4 linked regions of the Homo sapiens genome follow. The protein of the gene in region 3 purifies or fractionates together with the protein of the main gene of each other region. This does not show direct contact. Each region holds a gene or a part of one and is shown on either strand. Other genes may lie near its edges.

The links.
Region 1: the proteins of EPN1 (region 3) and LRP6 purify together in Homo sapiens (affinity purification with western blotting, with the first as the bait; one study listed by BioGRID). This does not show direct contact.
Region 2: the proteins of EPN1 (region 3) and KDR purify together in Homo sapiens (affinity purification with western blotting; one study listed by BioGRID). This does not show direct contact.
Region 4: the proteins of EPN1 (region 3) and ZDHHC8 fractionate together in Homo sapiens (co-fractionation; one large-scale study listed by BioGRID). This does not show direct contact.

What each region holds. Positions count from the first base shown.
Region 1 is NC_000012.12:12,158,725-12,162,544, reverse strand, and holds part of LRP6 (low-density lipoprotein receptor-related protein 6 isoform b precursor), read left to right. Parts: intron 1-125; coding exon 126-352; intron 353-2,580; coding exon 2,581-2,765; intron 2,766-3,389; coding exon 3,390-3,716; intron 3,717-3,820. UniProt on the Homo sapiens protein: Component of the Wnt-Fzd-LRP5-LRP6 complex that triggers beta-catenin signaling through inducing aggregation of receptor-ligand complexes into ribosome-sized signalosomes.
Region 2 is NC_000004.12:55,104,995-55,108,814, reverse strand, and holds part of KDR (vascular endothelial growth factor receptor 2 precursor), read left to right. Parts: intron 1-921; coding exon 922-1,078; intron 1,079-2,004; coding exon 2,005-2,128; intron 2,129-2,874; coding exon 2,875-2,983; intron 2,984-3,820. UniProt on the Homo sapiens protein: Tyrosine-protein kinase that acts as a cell-surface receptor for VEGFA, VEGFC and VEGFD. Plays an essential role in the regulation of angiogenesis, vascular development, vascular permeability, and embryonic hematopoiesis.
Region 3 is NC_000019.10:55,685,136-55,688,955, reverse strand, and holds part of EPN1 (epsin-1), read right to left. Parts: intron 3,561-3,820; coding exon 3,311-3,560; intron 87-3,310; coding exon 1-86. UniProt on the Homo sapiens protein: Binds to membranes enriched in phosphatidylinositol 4,5-bisphosphate (PtdIns(4,5)P2). Modifies membrane curvature and facilitates the formation of clathrin-coated invaginations. Regulates receptor-mediated endocytosis.
Region 4 is NC_000022.11:20,134,529-20,138,348, reverse strand, and holds part of ZDHHC8 (palmitoyltransferase ZDHHC8), read right to left. Parts: intron 1-3,820. UniProt on the Homo sapiens protein: Palmitoyltransferase that catalyzes the addition of palmitate onto various protein substrates and therefore functions in several unrelated biological processes.

The sequences.
Region 1 (3,820 bases), on a different chromosome or scaffold from region 3:
AGGAAATAGTATGCCTCTTGGCACTTCTGGATCCTCTTGCCCCTGACAAAAACCAAACCAAACCTTCTTTCTGGATAGGGTTTAGACTTATGCCATATGACTTAGTTGTTAATGTTCTTTTGCAGACCATCAGCAGAGCCTTTATGAATGGCAGTGCACTGGAACATGTGGTAGAATTCGGCTTAGATTATCCAGAAGGCATGGCAGTAGACTGGCTTGGGAAGAACTTGTACTGGGCAGACACAGGAACGAATCGAATTGAGGTGTCAAAGTTGGATGGGCAGCACCGACAAGTTTTGGTGTGGAAAGACCTAGATAGTCCCAGAGCTCTCGCGTTGGACCCTGCCGAAGGGTAAACAGCTTTACATGTGCATTCTTTGCAACTGCAGTGTACATTTCGGGGAACATGGCATAGTTACAGATGATATTCTTAATGTTTTAAATAATACGTATTAGGAATCTGAGAACTAAATGATAGATGAACTTTTAAAAACACTATTGATATTTTGCTGATTTGAATGAATAATTATTAGCTAATTTTACTCTTGTCGTAATTAACTTTAGGTGAAGAAAGAGGGGAATGGGTTAATAAATGTTACTGATGAGTATACTGATATGTTAAGTATATATACCAAGAGGTATTATCCATCTGTAGTTGCTTGCACTCCTTCCCAGTTATACTAGATTCCAAGCCTATTGAAGTAAACCCACCGAAACAATGTTGTGAGCTAAGAAAAAACTACATTTAAAAAGCTTTATTTTGGAGTATTTATTAATTCAAAATGGATAGTTTGGTTTGATCATTATTATAAACTGGCAGTAGCTTTGTTATTACAAGATAGAATAAACTGTTCACAACATGATGTTTTTCAAGGGCGAGTGTTCCTTTTTACAAGAGTCAGCAAATTTTTTAAAGCCGGCAGCTAAGAAATCTGAAATCTAAAGAAAAATTCCACTTATAAAAGAAGTCAACAGGCCGGGCGTGGTGGCTCACGCTTGTAATCCCAGCAACTTTGGGAGGCCGAGGCGTGGGCAGATCACAAGGTCAGGAGTTCGAGACCAGCCTGGCCAACATGGTGAAACCCCGTAACTACTAAAGATAAAAAAAAATTAGCCAGGCATGGTGGCATGTGTCTGTAGTCCCAGCTACTCTGGAGGCTAAAGCAGGAAAATTGTTTGAATCTGGGAGGTGGAGGTTGCAGTGAGCCGAGATCGTGCCACTGCACTCCACCCTGGGCAACAGAGCAAGACTCCATCTTGGAAAAAAAAAAAGAAGTAAACAGTGTGAACATATAAATATGTTTACTGTATTTGCTACTTAAAATAATTTCCCTGAAGTGACATTGATTCCATGATTAGCTAGTAATTCATCTAGTCAGCACTGACATATTGTGGTGATCTTTGCTCTAAACATTAGCTGCCAGACAGATAAATTTAATAGTTGGGACTAATTGGTTGCTGCTGGCAAGTATGAAATTTCTCTCACAGTTGTTTCTCTTTGGCTCTTGTGGTGTGCACATGCCTGTCAAATGACAAGTGCAAATGCATATAAAGGCAGGACACCTTCAGTTTTCAGAAAAGCATGTTCATACATTGCTACCAAGTCAGCTATCAGCTGACAGGCTGATGAGTGAATATATGTCCTCAGGTATTTCGTGAGAGCTGGCATGTGATGTGCTTTTTTAGTTCCAGTATTCAAGAGTCTCAAAAACTAGCACCTCACTAGTTTACTTGAAAGGGCATTTGGCCAAGGATTAGGTTCTAGTTCTAGCTCTGTCATCTAACTGGCTTGAAGACATTAGATAAGTTGTTCACATTTCTTGTAGTGTTTTGGGCTCTTCATCTATAAAAAGCCTATACTGTAGGATTACTGTAAGATTAAAGTGCAAAACTCAAAAATGGAAAATAACAGCAAAGTAATTATTCTAAAATTTCACAGAGATTGTTGTAGCGTAGTGTAGTGTTCATTGCCCAGTGGACACATCAAGGGGTGAGTCGTTGTTCTTACCATATAGTATGCTCCCTTGGACCATATGACCAAATACATTTTCAAGCTTTGCTTTTGACTTCAGTTAAAGGCTTAGTATTTATAATTACCTTTCATGTACTTCTGCAACTTATTTTGAGGAAGAGTTGATTACACAAGTCAAAAAGTAAGTTCAGCATATTAAAAACTCAAATTAGTTAATATTCAAAAGTATATAAAAATATTTTACTCAGAAGTGAACCAGATTCTGAGACCAGAGCTTTAAACCTTTGCTGTTTTCTTGAATGTTAATTTTACAAATGCCAGTACTGCAATAAACTGTTGGTTTATTTCCAATTCCTAGGTTTGGATGGAACAAATGTATTGGAAAGACTAAGGAAAGCTGACTCACTTCCTTTTTGGGATATGGAAAAAAATATTTAGTTTAGGGTGCCAAAATAATTGAAAGCATTGTAGCCGTGATTTTGTTTAACCCATTTCCTTGATTTGCTGTATGTTTTCTTTAAATTTATTTAGTTACTTTGCATGAATATGACTCTTTCCCCCAGATAATAAAAAATTGAAATGTTAAATATTTATTATTTTGAATTTAGATTTATGTATTGGACTGAATGGGGTGGAAAACCTAAGATAGACAGAGCTGCAATGGATGGAAGTGAACGTACTACCTTAGTTCCAAATGTGGGGCGGGCAAACGGCCTAACTATTGATTATGCTAAAAGGAGGCTTTATTGGACAGACCTGGACACCAACTTAATAGAATCTTCAAATATGCTTGGTAAGCTTTACTACTTTTTACTCAAACAGTATATTCTTTCCATGCAAATATCAGTGGCTGCTATTTATCATTGGTTAGATACTTTTAATACAACTTCATATGAATGTGTCCATTCTTCTTCTGTTCTGGAATTGTATCCTGTTTGTTATTAATAGTGATCCAGGTACTTGGATTCATCTTTTTATTATGTGAAAGTTTCATTATTATTGGACTTGTAATGAAATTTATAACTCCCTAGATACTCCTGAAATGACTTTTGTACCAGTAAAATATATATATTTCCATCTTTTCCTTCTATAGTTCAAGAAGAAAAAGTGAACTGTAGACCCTTATATAGAGAAAATAAAACCACATTTAAAGTAGACCATTTGCAAGAATTTTAGGAAACTGAGTGATTTGTAGCAGGAATATAAGTTTGAAGCATGGGGTCAGAAGATAGATTGATTTCAGAGAATTGGTCTCGTTTTAGAATTGCTTTTAAATGAATTTTTCTATTTTAAATTGCTTACAATGTAATGTTTTATATGTTAGGGCTTTTTTTTTTCTTTTTGCCAGCAAGACACTTGTATTCTCACATATTTCATCACTCTGCTTCTCCCCTGTCTACTGCCTTTCTGAAAATAGGGCTCAACCGTGAAGTTATAGCAGATGACTTGCCTCATCCTTTTGGCTTAACTCAGTACCAAGATTATATCTACTGGACGGACTGGAGCCGACGCAGCATTGAGCGTGCCAACAAAACCAGTGGCCAAAACCGCACCATCATTCAGGGCCATTTGGATTATGTGATGGACATCCTCGTCTTTCACTCATCTCGACAGTCAGGGTGGAATGAATGTGCTTCCAGCAATGGGCACTGCTCCCACCTCTGCTTGGCTGTGCCAGTTGGGGGTTTTGTTTGTGGATGCCCTGCCCACTACTCTCTTAATGCTGACAACAGGACTTGTAGTGGTAAGCTGCATTTCCCTCCAAAGCAAGCTAGAATGAGAGAAAGCAGCATTTTCAAAGTACTTTAGTGTGTGTTTTTTCTAAAGTTAAATAGTGTGGAAATCCAG
Region 2 (3,820 bases), on a different chromosome or scaffold from region 3:
TTTGACTTTGGAGTCAAAAAAGAAAGAAAGGAAAAAGGGAGAGAAGAAAGAAGGAAGTGAGAGAAGGGAGAAGGAAGAAAGGGGAAGAGGGAAAGGGAGTGGAGAGGGAGGGAGGGAGGAAGAGGGAGAGAGAATGAAAAACTCAGATGATGGTGGCAGGAATGCATTCTCTAAAGATTTACACCTTCCTTTAACATGAGGTGGTTTACGTGTTTGGGTTCAGAAGTCAGAGTGTCTAGGTTTGTTCCAGGTTTTGCCGTTCGTTAACTGAGTGACCTTGGGCGAGTCATTTTTTTCTGTTTCATTTTTTTCTCACGTATAAAGCTGTGGACAGTAATAGTGGTTGTGAGGATTAAGTGAATGAATTCATGCAAAGCACTTCAAACAATGCTTGGCACATAATAAATGTATTTACTGTGCTATTTCAGCTGTTTTCTGTAGCCTTTCCCTGATCTCCTAAACTTGAGAGGACAGAGAGAACTATCTCTGTAATACAGATGAGAGGCACAGGATTTCAACACTTCCATAAAGTCATTCAGCTTGTTAGTTTATTATTATTATTAGCTTATTGTCATTTTTATTTTATTTCGTTACTTTATTCCTTTTTTTTTTTTTTGGTAGAGATGGGGTCTCACCATGTGGCCCAGGCTGGTCTTGATCTCCTGGGCTTAAGCGATCCACCTACCTTGGCGTCCCAAAATACTGAGATTACAGGCATAAGCCCCCATGCCTGGCTAGTTGTTATTTTTATGAGTATCACTAGAACTCAGGTCTCTTGTTTCCACATCTAGGTGTTCTTCGAAAAAGAAAGTGGAAGCAAAATCATATGCTTAAAGAAAGTCAGCTTTAGTTGCTAAAATCCTCTATTTCCCATTCTTCAAAGCTGACTGACAATTCAAAAGTTGTTTTTCCCATCTTCAGTCCCACCCCAGATTGGTGAGAAATCTCTAATCTCTCCTGTGGATTCCTACCAGTACGGCACCACTCAAACGCTGACATGTACGGTCTATGCCATTCCTCCCCCGCATCACATCCACTGGTATTGGCAGTTGGAGGAAGAGTGCGCCAACGAGCCCAGGTGAGTAAGGCCACATGCTCTTTGCTTTCCTGCCATCTTGCATTTCTTACAGCTGAGCTATGATATGACTCCATCCTAAATGGAGAAGCCTAAACCAAAAAAAGTTTTCTCTCAAGAGGTAGCCTGAATCTCCATCCATCTTTCTCTGTGTCTTACATTTTAGGGGATGTCTTTGCTTGGAGTATCCTCCTTTGGGGTTAGCTAAGCTCAGCCTTGTTAGGTTAGCCGTGAGGTACACTTCTCCAAACACAGGCTATTTGCTCAGTTTGCTAATTGCCAGTCTTTGGTTTTTCTCCCGATACCAATCGGCTGGTGAATACCACATCCCTCCTTCTTGTGTGTGTGAAGATCCATCTCTCAGAGGAAATGCTGATAGATGAGAGGCAGTGATAGACCCAGCCCCAGTCCTCAGGGTCTCAGGCCCAGCTTATCATGCTCTGACACAAGTCCAGACATCCTTAGGGAAAAACACAACAACAGCAGCCAACCCACCACCACCCTAAGCAGTCCACTTCCTGTTGTTGTTTTTGAAATGGCCACTATGAGCTTCTTCCTCAGCTGCTGATCATTTCCTTCACAGAGACCATGGTCCCAGAGAAATTACTTTAAGGAGCCCAGTGGCTTCTAAGTTTCCTTGCCTTCCTTTGAACTAAATTAACTTGAATTGTCTTGTCGATCCAATTTATGAATGAAGGTTTATTCCCAGAATAGCTGCTTCCCTCCTGTATCCTGAATGAATCTACCTAGAACCTTTTCCTTCATTGTCAATGCCTATTTTTAATTGGCGCCAAGTCTTGTACCATGGTAGGCTGCGTTGGAAGTTATTTCTAAGAACAGAATAACCAAAGTCTGAATCTTTTCCTTACTCTTGACTCTAATTAAAGAAAAATTAAATCATAATATGCGCTGTTATCTCTTTCTTATAGCCAAGCTGTCTCAGTGACAAACCCATACCCTTGTGAAGAATGGAGAAGTGTGGAGGACTTCCAGGGAGGAAATAAAATTGAAGTTAATAAAAATCAATTTGCTCTAATTGAAGGAAAAAACAAAGTGAGTTTGAAGTTTTAAAATTTGAAAATCTCTCTCTCTTTAATGGAAGGATGGTACAATAATATGTGAGGCATATTGGAGATTAATAATCAAATAGTCTGGATGATTAAATAGAGCGTATTAAGTCACTTTGAAAATACCATTGACTTTTAGCAGTACCATTAACTTATTAATAGCTTATCAGAGAAAAATAAAAACATCTATGACATTAAATCTATGCATCTGTGTAGGGTGATTCTGATTTTATAAACATGAGAATGAAAAAATGTGTATCATATCATATTAAAACACATCATTAGTTTCATGGCTTCCAAAGCCCTTTTTATATAATGTGTGAGCTCCACAGCAGCATAATTATACAAATTGAGTAAATATCCCAAACCTAAAAACCCCAAATCCAAAATGCTCCAGATTCTGAACCTTTTTGAGTGCCGACATGGTGCTCAAAGGAAACGCTCGTTGGAGCATTTTGGATTTTCAGATTAGGGATGCTCAACTGGTAAGTATACAATGCAAATATTCCAAAATCCAAAAAAAAAAATCCAAAATCCAAACCACTTTTGGTCCCAAGCGTTTTGAGTAAGGGATACTCAACCTGCAATTGCATAAATTTGAGCGTGTCCAACCGCTGCAGAAGTGGGAATGGCATAGGCAGGTTGGAGTGATTGTGGAGACTGCTGGACTGAGTGCTTGTGCACAAACAGCCGCGTTGTTTATGGCCTGGGATTTGTTTTTTCCCCGCACAGACTGTAAGTACCCTTGTTATCCAAGCGGCAAATGTGTCAGCTTTGTACAAATGTGAAGCGGTCAACAAAGTCGGGAGAGGAGAGAGGGTGATCTCCTTCCACGTGACCAGTAAGTACTCTTCTCTGGAGGTTTGGGTTGGATCACTCACACAGTGGGTACTAAGCTATGTAATTCCCTGTTGTTTTTGCCATTCATGTGAGTGGCATGGCATTTAGGAAAGAGGACTTGGATTGATCATTGATGCTTTCATTCATAAATTACAACTTCTCAGGTATCTCCTGGGCTTATGTGAAGTCAGTGCGTCTAACTACACTGGAGAGAGAATGGTTTCACAGATGCTTTAAACCACAAGCTCTGTGTGGTATTTACATCTCAGTCTTCAGAGTCTGGCACAGTGCCTGGCTTATTGAGCTTCAGTACATATTGGTGGGCTTGCTGTGGAACAGTTGATGAGGGTGGGCTTTATGGAGGCAATCAGAAGGACATAGGAGCAGTGCCCTCCCAATGCTGCCGATTTTGCCTGTGCATCTTAGTTTTATGGATAAGCTTTAGCTGATTGTGCTGAATGGAATATTATAGCCAGGGCTAATTCATTGGCATAAATGTAGCTTTCATATCATTGAGTGTTAGTGTTAATGAAGACCTAATTTTAAAATTCTGTTAGAATTAGAGATTTTGCTTTGGATTTTTAATATATTAAACATTGCGTAGAGCTCATAGTGGAGATGTGGTAAATATCTGAGGAATTCGTTTACATTTTCAAGTAATGTGTTTGGCCAAATAAGATATTTTGGGACCTGAATTGTCTAGTTTGTTTGTCAAGTTGTAGTACATCACCTGGAACGGATAGAGCTTCATTTCTTTTGGTACTTTGTAGTAGTCTGAAAGCAGCAAGATGATAGTGAGCTGTACCAAGTTAAATCACCATTCAATAACTATGGCCTC
Region 3 (3,820 bases):
GAGCTGCAGCTCCTCCTCCCCGCTGCTCTGCGGCCACGCCTGCTCCGCCTCGGGAGGGGGGCCTGAGCCCACAGCTGCTGATGAGGCTGGAGGGCGGGTGAGAAACGCGTGAGACCCAGACCAGGGAACGAGAGACAGGAAACCCCATAGCCTAGACAGACGGGGGCTTCTGTGTCCAACCCCACCCCCCAAGTCCCCCACCCTACAACCTCTGCAGGCCAAGACTAGGACTGAGAGGCGGAGACCAGACGCCAGGTGCTCAGAGGAGGAAGGGTGGGGATGCAGGCAGCCCCACCCACGGGAGGGGCCAGGCATCAGGGAAGGACCAGAGCAAAAGTCAGTCTGATAAGCAGGTGGGGAACCCCAGCAACCTCTGAGCCCTGCCACCACCAGGACTCTCCGCGTGCCTGGGGTCTGTCCCTGGGCCCCTGGGGGATGGGAGGTCCTTCCTCCCAGGTTTCCCAGGCCTGTTTCCAGGGCTTGTTGAGAATGGTAGCTCTGGCAGGGAACAACTGGAATTCAGAGGGGAGAACAGCATCCATTGAGACAGCGGGATCCAAGGCCTAGTCGGGGTTAGGGAGTGGGCTAGCGAGGAGCCCTTGGTTCCAAGAGCAGGAGGGGAAGGGAGAGAGAGGACACAGGAAGGCAGGGCCGGACCCTCCAGGAGGCTGCTGAGATATCCCCGGCCTCCACTGCAGCATCCTCTCAGCAACCCCGCCTACCCTCAAACTCTGTCCTGACACTGTTCTCTCCACCCCCAAGGCCTGTGGACCCTTGCCCCCCTCCACAGTGCAGAGGACAGGCTCCAACCAGGCCCTAGGCCCGCCGAGCACAGGGCCATTGCCCCAGCCTCCAAAGCCCCAGGGCGGACCCTGCCTCTCCTGCCCCGCCCTCCCAACCACTGTGCACTGGTCAGCAAGTTCTGTCTGCTCCAGCTCCAAGACGCCGCCTTGCACCTGTGTCCTGTACTTGTGTCCCCACCCAACCCACTCCCCAGGCCCAGGCCTCTCCCTGACGAGCAGGCCCTGGCTCCCCTTGCCCGGAGCCGCAGCAGGCAGCTGTCTGGCGGCCCCACCTGCACCGGGTCCAGGGGCCCCCAGGCTGGCCCCCGTGTGGTGTGCCCAGCAGGGCTGGGTGCATGGGATGCTCCAGGGAGCATGTGGGTGGCAGAGCGGGGCCGAAGGGTGACCATCTGGGGTTATGAGTGAGGAAAGGACGAGAGAACCAGCAGGGATTGACGGACTTGGGTGGGTAAGCGGCCTTCTGAGGGGATGGGCAGATGGAAGGGCAGCGTGGGGCACAGGTGAGGCCAGCGCACAGGGAGGACCACACCCCTGTGGCCCCTCCTGCTCTTCCCTGCCCCTGTGACTTCCTCCTAAGCTCTAGGGACTCTCAGAGGTGAGTGCTGGGAATCTACACCCCATTGCCCAACCTCTACCTTGCACATGCCCCTAACCCCCCAGCCTGGTGGTGGCTAAATCCAATGCCCAGCAGCCCTGAGGGCCCCACCTCCCACATCACAGGTAATACTGGCACCCAGCCAGCAACACCCGGGCCTTCCCATCACCAGAGCACCCAGCCTCGGTGCTGCCCGGGGACCACAGGCCCTTCCCTGCCCACTGAGGGTCTCAGGGCTCACTCCCTAGCTGCCCCCATCCTCCTCCCCAGCCACAGCCCTCCACACAACTCACTCCAAGACAGGGGCCAGCACACCACAGTGGCAGCCACAGCTGGCCTGAGAAGGTCTAAGAAAGGCCTTTACATTTTTCAATGGTTGGAAGAAATGAAAAGAATGCACCAAGATGGGCGAAAATTCAGAGTACCCTTAAAAAATTAAATAACAACTTAAAAGTCTTAAAAAAGACACGTGAAAACTACATAAAATTCAAATTTCGGAGACCTTGGTGAGTGTCGGAGGGGTGCAGCTGCTTCCCAGCAACCGCCAGCGGACGGGGCCAGGCAGCTAGGATGGGAAGGCGTGGCCAGCAACGCAGAGGACATTAGCTCTGGCCTTGCACAAAGTCTGACGACCCCCGAGCCAGGATGTCCCACCCTCAGGCCTCTTACCTGAGGCTCCCACTCTCCTCCGAGCTACTGCCAATGTCCCTCCTCCGTCCACCCCAACCCCGCCACCCACCTGCCTGCCTGCCTGCCTCGAGCTGACCAGCCCCTCTCTGCCGCCTACACTCCCTCCTGTTGTCCCTGGCTCTGAGCACTCCCACGCCACACCGGCTTCCTTCCCTCCACTTCACTCTCTCTCTGCGTTCACGCCCATCTACTGGCTCGTGGGTCCCTACTCTGGAGTCCCAGGCAGGGTCGCACACACCCCGTCACACCCATGTCTCCCCGTGGGTGCTGAAAGGTGATCCCAAATGAGACCCGTCCAAACAGAAGGCCTAGACTTCCCCAAACAAGTCCAGTCCCTCGAGCCGGACCCCACGAGGGCCACAGGCCCTTCCTCCTGTCTGCACCGGCCTGGCTGACCCACCTCCACCTCCAGGGCAGTGCTCTAGCAGCCCCTCCCCATCCCACGTATCCCCACTAACTGAGGCACCTCCACTCTTCCTGGAGAGCAGAAGAGCCTGGCAGACATTCTCCAGCCTCCCTCCCAGTCCTGAGCAGCCGGACTAGCCTCTTCACGGCTGTGAGCCCCCGACCAACACAGACCACACTTCCTGGAACAGTCCGAGACCCACACACCCATCACATAACTGGAAATGTTTCGTGGGACAGATCTTGGCTTGACGATGTGGGATGCACTATTTCAAGTTTTGTTTTCGGTGCTGGTCACCACCCACCAGACTGAGTCCTCCACCTCCAGAAGGCACTGTCAAGGCTCCTAACACAGGCCCAGATGCCTGGTGCAACCTGCAGGCCCTGGCTCTGGCCTTCCTTCTGTGCCTCTTCCAGGCCCCCCTCTGCCTCTCCGATGTTCCCCTCATCTCAGCGCAGAGAGAAGGACAGCACCCTCGGGGGTCACTGTGCGTGTCCCCTCAGAGCCCTGTCCCCAGCACTGATCACCCTCAGGCCCTGAGCCTATGGGGGAGCGGAATAAAAGTTCCCAATTCTAGGCCTGCCCTGGGGCACGAGGCAAGAGGCAGGAAGGGTCCCAGAGCTGCTGCATGGGAGGTGCTAAGGGAAAAAAAGGGCCCAAGTGAGACCAGAGCAAGGGGCCCAGGTGAGGAGAAGCAAAGGGGGATGCCGCGGTCCCTCCTGGCTGGGAGAGAAAGCAGTGGGCGGCCGGGTGCCGGGAGCCGCAGTAGGCGGAGGACAGACTCTAGGCCGTCAGGGGCCGCAGGGAGGGACTCACCCGTGGCGGTCTGTGCCAGCTTTTCCTTGGTCTTGAGCGCGTGCGCCCGCTCTTCCCGCAGCCGGTCCTCGTCGCGCAGCAGGGCCACCAGCTGCTTAGCTTTCTCACGCACGTTCACGCCCTGGTCCTTGCCGTCGCGGTCCACGTACTGGAAGTCCTTCAGCGTCTGCACGGCGTACATGTTCTCCTTGCACTGCTGCGACACGCGCTCCGAGCCGGTCTTGATGAGGTACTCCATCAGCGTCATGGCCTGCGAGCGGGCACGGGGATGCCCGGTCAGCACGCCGGGCACAAGGCGGGCCAGAGACTGCCTGCGACGCGGGCTCTGGGGCGGCCGACTGGGCGCAAGGCCCACAACCCACCTGTCGCCAGTGGGTGGACACACATCTGTCCCCACAGAATACGACACGGCCATGCAAAGGAATGAACACAGACCCACGCTGTGACGGGGACCAGCCGCGGAGGTACTGCGCTCAGCGACAGACGCCAGCACAGAACGCCACACAGCCT
Region 4 (3,820 bases), on a different chromosome or scaffold from region 3:
AAGAAGCCCCTCTGGCCTCAGGCTCCTTGTCTCTCCCCTGCGCACCCTGAGACAGCTGCTGTGACAAGCAGCAGGGACAGGAACACAGGGGTTTGCGTCCCTCCCTGCACCCAGGCCCTCTGCATAGTCGGGGGGCTAGTGGGGATCCCCCACAGCAGCCCTGACCTCTATGGCCACTAGCAGTGGATGGGGCCCACGCGCTGCCTACCACTCCAGCGCACGTGGCCACGCTGCTGCACCCACGCCCGCCTGGCCAAGAGCCAGCCCCGCCGCCCCGGCAACCACCTCCACGGCAGCAGAGCTTCACTATTTTTAGTGGAAAGCAAGAGGCTATTTAAAGACTCCGCTTCCCACGACAGCCATCCTCGGCGGGGCTGGGAGCCCAAGTTACCCTTCCTCTTGTCCAGGGCCCAGCCCGTGGAGGTAGACACCAGGGTGAGGACACAGCTGCGGCCACACCTCCCTCTGCTGGGAGGGCTCTCCCTGTCCCTGCCCAGTGGCTCAGCCCCCAGGCTTCCTTCCACCCTCCCCAGCCCTGCCTGGCACACAGGCAGCACTCAAACATGTGCCTGGCCTCCAATGCAACGCCATTCAGCCAGGACCACAGGCCCCTAAGGCAGGGTCGGCCCAACAAGATGGGCACAGGCAGGTGAGCAGCTCCCCCAGGGAGAGGCAGGGCCTGTGGAGCTCTCCACGAGCCTTCTGGGGAAGGCTGGCTACATAGTCTGTGCAAAATGAAACTGCGGGCCCCTTATTTAAAAATTACAGAGAATTTCAAGATGTTGACAGCGGAGCATTAAACCAAACGCAGGCCCTCATGATGCCCGTGGGGCTGGCCTGCTCTGGGAAGGGATGCGGCGAGTGCCATTGGTCAACCCTCGGGCTGCAAGGAGGCAGCCTCTGTCCTCCCAGTGCTGACCTCAGGATGGAAGCCTCGGGGCCCCTCTGCACCTGCGCTGGCTGCCAGCCTGCCTCCTGGCCCTAACGGGGGCCTTGGGGGTGTGTTCGCCCATCAGGCAGGCGGGGCCTGAACCCCATGCTGACTTGAGCTCCCTGCCAGCCCAAGCAGGCGGTACTGCTGTGTCCTCCCTGAGCCTGGACTCCCCCACACCAGGCGGGCTGGACAGCAGCCTTGCAGCCGTGGGGCTACTTTGGGAAATCTGCAGTGTGACCGGGTCCCTCCTGCCCAGTGCGGGTACCTGCCACATGCCTGTGAGGGCCCATATGGGCCCTAATCCAGGGGTTGGGGAGGCTTGTTGTGGGTTCTCTGACTGGGACCTGAGCTGCTGCCCACTCCTCCAGTCCTCCAGAGTGAGGCAACTGTCCTCTCTGTAGTCCCCAAGGTCAGATCCTGCCTAACAGGGACCAGCTCACAGGCCAACCCACCAGGGCCCAGAGCTCTCAGGGCTCAGTGGGAGAGAAGATGAGGAGCACACGCAGGCACCTACAGACACGTGTGAAGACATGGACACACACACAAACATGCTCCAGGGCACATGTGCATGGGTATGTGTGCACACACACAAATATACAGGCATGTACACACATAAACACACAGACAACCTGTTCTGGTGCACAGAAGGCACACATGCACACATGCAATCATGTCTGCATACAAAACACATATACATGCATGAACACTTGCATGCAGACATGCACACGTGCACACACTGGTGCACATGCATGAACGCAGACACGCCTGCACATCACTCACCCACCAAGACCTATGTGTGAACACGCGTGAACACAGGCATGCATAGACACATGCCTCCTCACACTGCACCCAGCCCTATCCAGCCTCGGCTCGGCTGCCCCTCACTCTGGGCCTCAGACACGGCCCTCCCACTCTCTGGGCTTCCCTTTGCCCCTCTGTGGATAGGGCAAGTGTGAGGACACACAAGCACTCTCAGGGTGCGCAAGAACACGGGAGGACACACAAGGACATGCAAGGATGCATGAGGACACATGGGGACAGGGGAGGCCATGTGTGGATGCTCAGGGACACTCAAAGACACGCATTCCCACAGGCAGGGCCTAGCAGGCAGTAGTCTGGGTCCAGGCTCGGGGAGGCTCCACTCCCACCCAGACCTGATGGTGCACACCAGGCTCGCCTGCCGGAGGGCCAGGCAAAGACAGGCTCTGGGCCTGGGCTGGAGGTGGAGTGTCTGGCCCGCCATGTCCCTCTGAGCCCCTCCTGGCTGGCTCCAGCCAAGCTACGGGTGGAGGGCAGGTCCAGGGGGCCCAGCCCCGAGGTTCCAATCCCTCCTCCAGGGCCACAGGCAGGGACATGCACCACCACCATAGGCCCCACCCGGGCTGAGGCCCCAAGTCCCGCCTGGGCTGGCAGGGAGATACCGCCGAGCAAGAGGGGTGGCTTAGGGGCAGAATGTCCGCCACAGCTAAATGTGGAATGGAAAATTTTAACTCAGACGTTTTCATTTAAATCAGGTTCTTCATTAGCACTGTTTGTGTATGAGTGGCACTCGCCCGTGGGGCGCTCGGGACCGGCGGGGCAGAAGCTGCTGCGCCCTTGTCAGGCCAGGCCTTTGGGCCTCGAAGTACCTGCACCTACCTGTCCAATCCCTATAGACACCTGGACAGATGGGGAAACTGAGGCTCGGGGGCCAGGAATACCCCAGGCCACATGCGGTGGGTCCCAGCAGGGGGGCTCACACTGAGTTTTCACTCCCAGGTTCCCCAGACTCATGAGGTCCCAGTCAGCAGTTCAGTCCCTCCTGGCCCACCAAGGCTAGTCTGGCCCAGGGCCTGTTCTGACTGCTGTCCTGAGCTGGGCCTCCAGGCAAGGAGAGGGCTCAGGACGATCTAGGGACCAGCCACACCATCCCAGATGCCCCAGACAGAGATAAGCCAGCCTGGCTCAGCCCCAGGCACTGGCAGCCTGCCAGGCAGCCCCAGCCCTCGGACATTCACAGGGTCCCTGTCATTCTGCAATGTGGCTCTGGAGTGAAGTCAGGGCAGGGTCGGGAGCCTGGCCTAGGGGTCTTCGAACCCTCTGCCAGCAGCTGACCCAGCCTAGCATTATACCATGGTATAAAGGGCTTCTGAAGCCCAGGGGGATACAAAACCCCCAGAAACATAGGAAGGGGCCGGGAGCAGTGATCACACATGTAATCCCAGCACTTTGGGAGGCTAAGGCTGGCAGATCACCTGAGCTCAGGAGAATAGCCTGGGCAACATAGCGAGACCCCATCTCTACTAAAAAAAAACAAAAAAACAAAAAATAAATAAATTAGCCAGGTGTGAGGGTGCCCACCTGTCATCCCAGGTACTCAGGAGGCTGAGGTGGGATGATCACTTGCGCCCAGGAGGTCGAGACTGCAGTGAGCCGAGGTAGCACCACTGCACTCTGGCCTGGGTGACAGAGTGAGACCCTGTCTCAAACAAACAAACAACAACAAAATCCTAGGAAGGCTTCCTGAAGGAAGAGGGCCTCTGAGAAACTGCCCTGCTGTATGTGCCCCATCCTGAGAGGGTGCTCTTCACAACTGGGCATCCTTCCATGCCCAGACCCTCCTAGAGAGATGTGTGAATGTCCTGCTGGTCCCAAGACCCTTGGCGATCTGGCTGAGGGAGGGGTCCCTGGTTCTCAGGCCTCCAGCTCCCCACACCACATGACACCCAGAACTCCTGCCCACCTGGTGCATGGGTGAAGCCACCCCACCGGCAGCAACTCATGTTTACTGAGTGCAGAGAGGGGGCTGGGGCCACTCACTGTCTGGTAACGTCCGAGGAGCAAACAGTGAAGTCGGGAACCCTGTATAGGCACTAAGGGCAGGGATTCGGGGCACAAGAGCAACCT